Regions from separate parts of the Homo sapiens genome. Here region 2 is linked to region 1. The links come from fine-mapping of genetic effects on gene expression. A gene starts in region 1. The other region holds a variant in brackets. All regions are shown on one strand. Distances are between the middles of the regions. Region 1 holds the start of RTL6 (retrotransposon Gag like 6). Region 2 overlaps LOC105373059 (a long non-coding RNA gene).

Region 1 (4,384 bases):
AACCTCCCATCCCATCATGGCCAGGAACTCGGCTTCCCAGGTTTCTCTGGGGTCCCCTGGCCAAGAGGGGGTCTGTTCAGTTGGTTGGGGGGGGGGGGCTTAAATTTTTATTTTTATTTCTCAGTATCTTTTCTCTCCAGCCATGCCAGCTTGAAACTGACCATGCAGAAGGATCACCTAGGTCAAGCTGGGAATCCAGACCCGGAATCAAACAGTTCTTACCCTTTGGCCAGTGTATTAGTCTGTTTTCACGCTGCTGATAAAGACATACCTGAGACTGGGCAATTTACAAAAGAAAGAGGTTTATTGGACTTACAGTTCTGTGTGGTGGGGAGGCTCACAATGACGGCAGAAGGTGAAAGGCACGGAGGAGCAAGTCAGGTCTTACATGGATGGCGGCAGGCAAAGAGAGAACTTGTGCAGGGAAACTTCCCTTTTTTTTTTTTTTAATTTTTTTTTGAGATGGACTTTTGCTCTGTTGCCCAGGCTGGAGTACAGTGGTGCAATGTCTGCTCACTGCAAGCTCCGCCTCCTGGGTTCACGCCATTCTCCTGGCTCAGCCTCCCAAGTAGCTGGGACTACAGGCGCCCACCACCACGCCTGGCTAATTTTTTGTATTTTTAGTAGAGACGGGGTTTCACCATGTTAGCCAGGATGGTCTCGATCTCCTGACCTCGTGATCCACCCGCCTTGGCCTCCCAAAGTGCTGGGAGTACAGACGTGAGCCATTGTGCCCGGCCGGAAACTTCCCTTTTTAAAACCATCAGATCTCTTGAGACTCACTCACTATCACAAGAAGAGTGCAGAAAAGACCTGCCCACATAATTCGATCACCTTCCACCAGGTTCCTCCCACGATGTGGGAATTGTGGGAGTTACGACTCAAGATGAGATTTGGGTGGAGACACAGCCAAACCATATCAGCCAGGTATCTTCACTCCTTGGTATTTACTCTGGGGAACCCAGCAGAGAAAAGGGTGGGGATTTATATACAAGTGTAGTTTATAAAACTTTAGCATGGTAAACAAGATAAGGATCTATCAAAAAGGGCATGGCTAAATACTTTGCGGTACAGGAGTTCCATGGACCACAGGCAATAACTGAAAATCATGCTTCTGAACTATCTTTAATAGGAAAATGCTCAAAATTCAATGTGCTGTTATGGTTACAAAATATTCATAAGGTAAAAAATATTTTGTAGAACATATCATAGAAAAATGACTGGATGGAAGTACAGAAATATTACTATCTCTACGTTACATATATATGTATTACTATTTGCTATCTTTAGGTGGAGGGAGTCTGAGTAGTATAAAGTTTTTTTTACTTCTCTTACATCAAGATTTGTTACATTAAATTTATATTCAAATCACAATAAGGGCCTGATGCAGTGGCTCACGCCTGTAATCCCAGAACTTTGGGAGGCCAAGGCAGGCGGATGCCCTGAGGTCAGGAGTTGGAGACTGGCCAGGCCAACAAGGTGAAACCCCGTCTCTACTAAAAATACAAAAATTAGCCGGGCATGGTAGCACGCGCCTGTAATCCCAGTTACTTGGGTGGCTGAGGCAGAAGAATCGCTTGAACCCGGGAGGCGGAGGTTGCAGTGACTCAGGATCGCGCCACTGCACTCCAGCCTAGGCGACAGAGCGAGACTCCGTCTCAAAAAAAAAAAAAAATAAGAAGAACAGTAAATCATCAAAAAAATAAACCCAATGACAACCACAGAAAGAGCCTTGCAAGCCCTCTTGGGAGGAATGACTGGGAGAACACCAGGTACCCGCCCTGATGAAGACGCCGCAGCAACTACAGTCTTCCCCGATTGGCAGCAGCCCGAGTTGGGGGGTGGGGGGGGGTGGGACTTTGTGCATCACTTCCGGGGGCGGGGCAGCGGTCGTCTCCGCACGCGCGGGAGCGGTCGGTATCCATGGCAACCAGCGGGGCCAGCCTAAGGCCCGCCCGCCACCGCCACCGCGCCGGCCCCGCCCGCACAAAGGCCGCGCGGTGACCCGCCCTCTGCCGCGACCCCGGCCCCGCCCCTGCCCCGGCCCCGGCCTGGCCCGGTCCCTGCACCTGCCGGAGGCCGCCCGCCGCCATCGCCAGCGCCGTCGCTTGGCTGCGCTGACCGGGAAGCAGTTCTCGGCGGTCCGCGCGGTGATTCATCGGCCTGGCCGCGTCCCCCGCGCGGGCCATCTTGGTCACGGCCGGCGGCGGACAGAGCCGCGGAGGAACCGCGAGACCCCAGGTACGCGTGCCCCCGGCCCCCTGCCCGGCCGGGCCCCGCCACTGTGGTGGCCCCCAGGCCCGCGGCCGCCAAGGAGCAGCCCCCTTTGTTCTCCCCCGGGCGGGCGCGGGGCGGGCGCCGCGGGGCTTTGTGCAGCCTCGCCACCCACGCGCGGGCCCTCCACGCCGCCCCTCACCCTCCTGCCCGCTAGTCGCAACTGAAACCTTGAAAACATCTTTTCTTAATCCTCCAGGGCCCAGAGCAGGTCCAGCCACCCGTCTGGCTCCGTAGTCCGCGAAGTCTGCAGTAAAGGAGCCGCGTGGGACCGGGGCCGAAGTCCCTAGGGCCTGGCACCGCGTGCCCCTCTCTCGGGCCCTCGGCTTGGGGGTCTCGCAGCGCCCTGCCGTCGTGCACCCCACACTGCCCCCATTTCTACAGGGGCCCACCTGGTCACCACACCCTCTTGGTCCACCCGCGGATCTCAGCGTGTGGCTGACCTCTGGCCAGCATGGTGCAGCCGCAGACGTCCAAAGCTGAAAGCCCAGCCTTGGCAGCGTCTCCGAATGCCCAGATGGATGACGTTATTGACACCCTGACCTCCCTGCGCCTCACCAACTCGGCGCTGAGGCGGGAGGCTTCCACCCTGCGGGCGGAGAAGGCCAATCTCACCAACATGCTGGAGAGCGTGATGGCAGAGCTGACCTTGTTACGCACCAGGGCGCGGATCCCGGGGGCTCTGCAGATCACCCCGCCCATCTCCTCAATTACTTCAAACGGGACTCGACCCATGACCACACCTCCAACCTCTCTGCCCGAGCCCTTTTCCGGGGACCCAGGCCGGTTGGCGGGGTTCCTGATGCAGATGGACAGATTCATGATCTTCCAGGCCTCCCGCTTCCCGGGTGAGGCCGAGCGTGTGGCCTTCCTTGTGTCTCGACTGACTGGGGAGGCGGAGAAGTGGGCTATCCCCCACATGCAACCTGACAGCCCCTTGCGCAACAACTATCAGGGGTTCCTGGCAGAGTTGCGGAGAACCTACAAGTCTCCGCTCCGGCATGCGCGGCGCGCCCAAATCAGGAAGACTTCTGCCTCTAATAGGGCTGTGCGAGAGAGGCAGATGCTCTGCCGCCAGCTGGCCTCTGCGGGCACGGGGCCTTGCCCAGTGCATCCAGCTTCCAACGGGACTAGTCCAGCGCCAGCCCTGCCTGCCCGAGCACGGAATCTTTAAGAATCCGCCAGCACTTGGTAGCGTCTGCAGCCACCCAGGTAGCATACGCTCTTTGCTGTGTAGAAGAAATGCCCATACGACAGCTTTGCCCCTGTTTGAAGACCTCCCTTCTTGCCTCTCCAGACGTGTTCCCCGAGGAGATCTTCCTTCCGTCCTTCCTGGCGCCCTGGTTGCCCACCTTGCCGTGCTTCCTCTTACGTGCTAGCTTTGTACCTATCGCTCACTGCATGCTCGCCTCCCTCTTGCTGGCATCCCGGCCTGTTTCAATGACTACCGCTCTGCTACTTAGGCACAGGGACTCCGCCGCACGCTGACGGACCACGAGGGCTGACCCCTTCCAGCCTGACTTGGTTCATGGAGGCTCCTACTCTGCCCTCTCCAAGCTCCCCTGGCGGCTCCCCACCTGGTTGCCCAGTTCCTATTGATGAGCTCTGGACAGAAAGATGCCCGTTTGGCCAGGCTGGTGGCTTGATGGGTGTACCTGGAGAGGGGGTCTGGCTTCCTGCCCAAGATGCCTCCCAGCCCTGCCAGGGCCCGGTGCAGCGGGCAGGGCCTCATCTGTGCTGTAGTGGTCGAGTGGTTGCTGCAAGGAGCGTAGTTCTGCCATGTCTGGGGGCCAGGTTCCACTCTGCACATGAATATGCAGTCTGGGAGGCCCCACTGCTCTCACTGGGAAGGACCAATGTTGCACCTCTGTTAATGCCTGACTTCAGCTGCTGGTGTTCTGATGGAGCCAGAGGCTTGGGGAATCTGGAACTTGCCTGCTAAATAAGGTCGTGGTGGACTCTCAGCCATTGGGCAGGTCTATCAGGCTGCAGGTTCCTACACACCCACGCCTGAGGGTCATAGCAGGCTAAGGGTGGATACCAGCGACTCCCTTTGCTGCCCAGGATCTCCATGGGCAGTGCCACAGCGGCTGATGCTCAGTCACTCCTG
Region 2 (4,384 bases), 35 kb before region 1:
TCCCAGCACTTTTGGAGGCTGAGGCAGGTGGATCACCTGAGGTCAGGAGTTCGAGACCAGCCTGGCCAACATGGTGAAACCCCATCTCTACTAAAAATACAAAAATTAGCTGGGTGTGGTGGCGGGTGCCTGTAATCCCAGCTACTCTGGAGGCTGAGGCAGGAGAATTGTCTGAACCCGGAGGCGGAGGCTGCAGTGAGCCAAGATCACGCCACTGCACTCCAGCCTGGGTGACAGAGCGAGACTCCATCTCAAAAGGAAAAAAAAAAAAAAAGAAACCCTCCTTTGAATGAACCATAAATATTCGTTGCCCCAAGTTAAAAAAAACTTAATTATACGTTAATATATAATAAACATGTATTTGCATTTGTATATAATAAACATGTATTTGTATGTAATATGTAATCATAATGTAAGAATTACTTGAAGAAAATTTGGGTGCAAACCTCATATTAAGAGGCACATTTGCCTCACTCTTCCTCCCAGGGACAATGATGACAGCCTTTTCGTGCAGCTCCTACCAGTGTTCCTTTGAGGGGTGTGTGACTGCCAGTATGACTGCCCAGGAATTTGGAGGGTGAGGCCAGGAAACTCCAGGAGAGACGGTGGCCTGTGTGGCGTTATCACGGGGAGGTGCAGGTTGGCACCTAAACTTGATCATGCTACTCTCCTGCCTGAACACTCTGTGGCTCCCACTGCTCTTAGGATGAGACTCCAGCTCCTTGTTCCTCCAGCTGCCTCCTCACCCTGCCTTGCGCCATTCCCCTGCCTTGCTCTTTGGCCCTCAGGCCTACAGCTTCTTTGCTGGTCCCTGGGTGCCCCAAGATCTTCTCCTCTTGTTCCCAGTACCCAGGATACTTGTTACCTGCTACTTCCTCCTGGCTGGGCCCCCTGGCCCCACGAGGACAGCTTTTTCTGGATGACCTGGCTAAGTGAAGGCTGGATCCTTCATTCCTCTCTGCAGCCCCTTTTGTTTCAGAGCACACGTCACAGCCGCCATCATTGATGTGCCTATCTGGCTACTTGTGTATGATTTTTTCCTGCCCCTAGCATGTATGCCCTGTGTGTGCAAGCACTGTCTGGCGAACCACTGTACACCCAGTGTCTGGCACATAGCAGGTGACCCATACATATTTGCGTATTAAGGGGAAAGATGGCAATAACTAGAGGACGTGGGGACATTTGACTCATGCGTTTATCTTTTTTTTTTTTTTTTGAGACAAGATCTCACTCTGTTACCCAGGCTGGAGGGCAGTGGCACGATCTCAGCTCACTGTAGCCTCAACCTCCTGGGCTACGGCGATCCTCCTGCCTCAGCCTCCTGTGTAGCTGGGACCATACCCGCATGCCACCGCAGCTGGCTAATTTTAAAACTTTTTTTGTAGACACAAGGTCTCACTTTGTTGTCCAGGCTGGTCTGGAACTCCTAGGCTCAAGCCGCAGCCTCCCAAAGTACTGGGACTACAGGCGTGAGCCACCACATGCAGCCATGTATCTTTTAAAAATATTTATTATTTATTTTTTAATTTTTCATGCCCCTTGCTGCAGAGTTGTGTATATGTATCTGCGTTTATGGACATATTTCTTCTAAAACATATTGAAGTATAATATGTATCTAGAAAAGTGCACCAATTCTGAGTGTGTAGCTGGGTGAATTGTCAATGGTTACAGACCCATGTATCCAGCACCCAGATCTGGATACAATGTTATCAGCACCTCAAAAACTGCCTCCTGGCATGGTGGCTCATGCCTGTAGTCCCAGTACTTTGGGAGGTCGAGGAGTGGGGATTGCTTGAGCCCAGGAGTTCGAGACCAGCCTGGGCAACCAAGTGAGACCCTTGTCTCTACAAAAAAATACCAAAAAAAACTAGCCAGGGGTGGTGGCGCACACCTGTAGTCCCAGCTACTCGGGAGGCTGAGGTGGGAAGTTCACTTGAGCCTGGGAGATGGAGGCTGCAGTGAGCTAAGATCACGCCACTGAACTCCAGCCTGGGTGACAGAGTGAGACCCTGTCTCTGAAACCAAAACCAACACCAAAACCGAACAATCCAAAACAAACAAAAAACCTCCTCCACGCCCCTTCTAGTCTCTGCTCCTCCCTGCAATAATCATAGCCTCTGTGCCATAGATGAAATAAATGCTGGCAGGATTGGAAACCGGCTCAGCCATTTTGAAAACCACTTGGCAGTATCTACTAAGCTGAACCTGAGCCCCGCAGTGACCCGGCCATCCTGCTCCGAAGGATGTTTGCAGAGGGCGGAAATG[C/T]ACACAGCTGCTCACCGCAGGTGCAGAGACACCCACTGGGGTGTTCCTGACCGTTTCAGACTAGAAGTCCACCCGTACGCCCATCACAGTGGGTGGAGAGGTGCACTTGGGAGAGCCACACAATGGAATACTTCACAATAACAAGAACGCAGGTGCCACAGACAAAGGCAGCAGCGACGATGACTCTCTCAGTGTTGAGTGGAAAACATCAGACAGAAAAGATGACCCATTCCAAGATGACATTTATATGTGAAACCAGAACAGACAAAACAACCCAACAGGGCTATGTGTGGGAGGATATTTATTTTGCTTCTTTTCACTTTCCTTGTCTTCCCTTCTCTTTCTCCCTCTCTTCTCTCCCTCCTTCCTTTTCTTCCTTCCTTCCAAATTTGGGATCCCTATCCCTCTCTGTAAACACACACACACAGCTTCTTCTCTACATCAAGAAATAATAGGCTGGGCGCAGTGGCTCACGCCTGTAATCTCAGCACTTTGGGAGGCCGAGGCAGGGGGATCACAAGGTCAAGAGATCGAGACCATCCTGGCCAACATGGTGAAACCCCGTCTCTACTAAAAATACAAAAATTAGCTGGGCGTGGTGGTGTGCACCTGTGGACCCAGCTACTCGGGAGGCTGAGGCAGGACAATTGCTTGAACCTGGGAGGTGGAGGTTGCCAGGAGCCAAGATCACACCACTGCACTCCAGCCTGGTGACAGAGCAAGACTCTGTCTCAATAAAACAACAACAACAACAAAAAACCCTTTAAAATAATGGCCACCACGGATGCATGAAGGCTTGTAAGCATTTTATATGCTGATGCTTTGGAAAGTCCATGACCTTTTTCAGAAATCATCATGAGTTCAAGGTCGACATCAGGTACAGGGGCTCTGAGGCATTTGCTTAGCTGGAATGAGGGGGTGCTCGTGGCCGTGGTCACATGACAGGTGGTGTGTGCTGCACTGGTCAGGGGGTGTGCTCAGGGGAGAGGGGTATGGGACACCATCTACAGTGGCTGTTCAGCAAAAGGAAAGGTTGAGGACTGACCATTTAACCTGCTTGACTGTGTCTTTTTAAGGGCTGCAGACATTCCGTTATCTGGGTTGTTAACGGCTTTACGGAGCCAAATCTCTGCCACCAGTGTGAATAAACATCTGGGTGCCAGAGCCAAGCTGCACAGGTTCAGATCTGGGCTCTGCCAGGCACTGGTGATTCATCAGAGACAACTTATTTATCTCTCTCTCTCTCTTTTTTTTTTTTATGAGACGGAATCTTGTTCTTGTTGCCCAGGCTGAAGTGCAGTAGCGCAATCTCAGCTCACTGCAACCTCCACCTCCCAGGTTCGAGCGAGTCTCCTGTCTCAGCCTCCCGTGTAGCTGGGATTACAGGTGCATGCCACCACACCTGGCTAATTTTTGTATTTTTAGTAGAGACGGGGTTTCGCCATGTTGGCCAGGCTGGTCTCGAACTCCTGACCTCAGGTGATCCACCCGCCTCGGCCTCCCAAAGTTCTGGGATTACAGCCATGAGCCACTGTGCCCAGCAACTTATTTACTTCTTGGGGCCTCCGTTTCCTTATCTGTAAAATAAGTTTGAAAACTGCGCTGACCACATACAGTTGCTGTAAGAATTAAATGAGTTATTTATTTATTTTTATTTATTTTTTTGTTGAGATGGAGTCTCGCTCTGTCACCCAGGCTGGAGTGCAATGGTGCGATCTCGGCTCACTGCAAGCTCTGCCTCCTTGGTTCACGCCATTCTCCTGCCTCAGCCTCCCGAGTAGCTGGGACTACAGGAGCCTGCCACCACGCCCGGCTAATTTTTTTGTATTTTTAGTAGAGACGGGGTTTCACCATGTTAGCCAGGGTGGTCTTGATCTCCTGACCTCGTGATCTGCCCGCCTTGGCCTCCCAAAGTGCTGGGATTATAGGCGTGAGCCACCACAGTCGGCCATGAGTTATTATTTGTAAAGCTCTTGGTTAAGTGCCTGCATGGAACACAGTAAGCATTTAACAATGTTTTTCTACTTTTGCTCAGTTGTTTTAAAATGTCCCCCATCGTATTAGTCAGCTTTGGCTGTAATAATGCTGCATAACAAACATTCCCTGTCTCTCAGTGGCT

What was found. PIP is the estimated chance that this variant, and not a neighbour inherited with it, causes the effect. A credible set is the group of variants that fine-mapping cannot tell apart.
Region 2: its variant is the best candidate, but not a certain one, in a credible set for the expression of RTL6 in nasal epithelium (TOPMed, PIP 0.85).

The regions. Positions count from the first base shown.
Region 1 is chr22:44,495,901-44,500,284 of GRCh38, reverse strand. It overlaps RTL6 (retrotransposon Gag like 6), which reads left to right and starts at 2,052. Exons shown (of 2, transcript NM_032287.3): 1 at 2,052-2,241; 2 at 2,474-4,384. The coding sequence starts at 2,729. The coding sequence ends at 3,448. RefSeq lists silencers at 1,842-1,901, 1,992-2,121 and enhancers at 3,381-4,158, 4,159-4,384.
Region 2 is chr22:44,530,735-44,535,118 of GRCh38, reverse strand. It overlaps LOC105373059 (a long non-coding RNA gene), which reads left to right. Exons shown (of 3, transcript XR_938300.2): 3 at 1-398. Among named protein-coding and RNA genes, the nearest start is that of RTL6, 35 kb to the right of the region's middle. The variant C/T (reference allele first, on the strand shown) is at 2,266.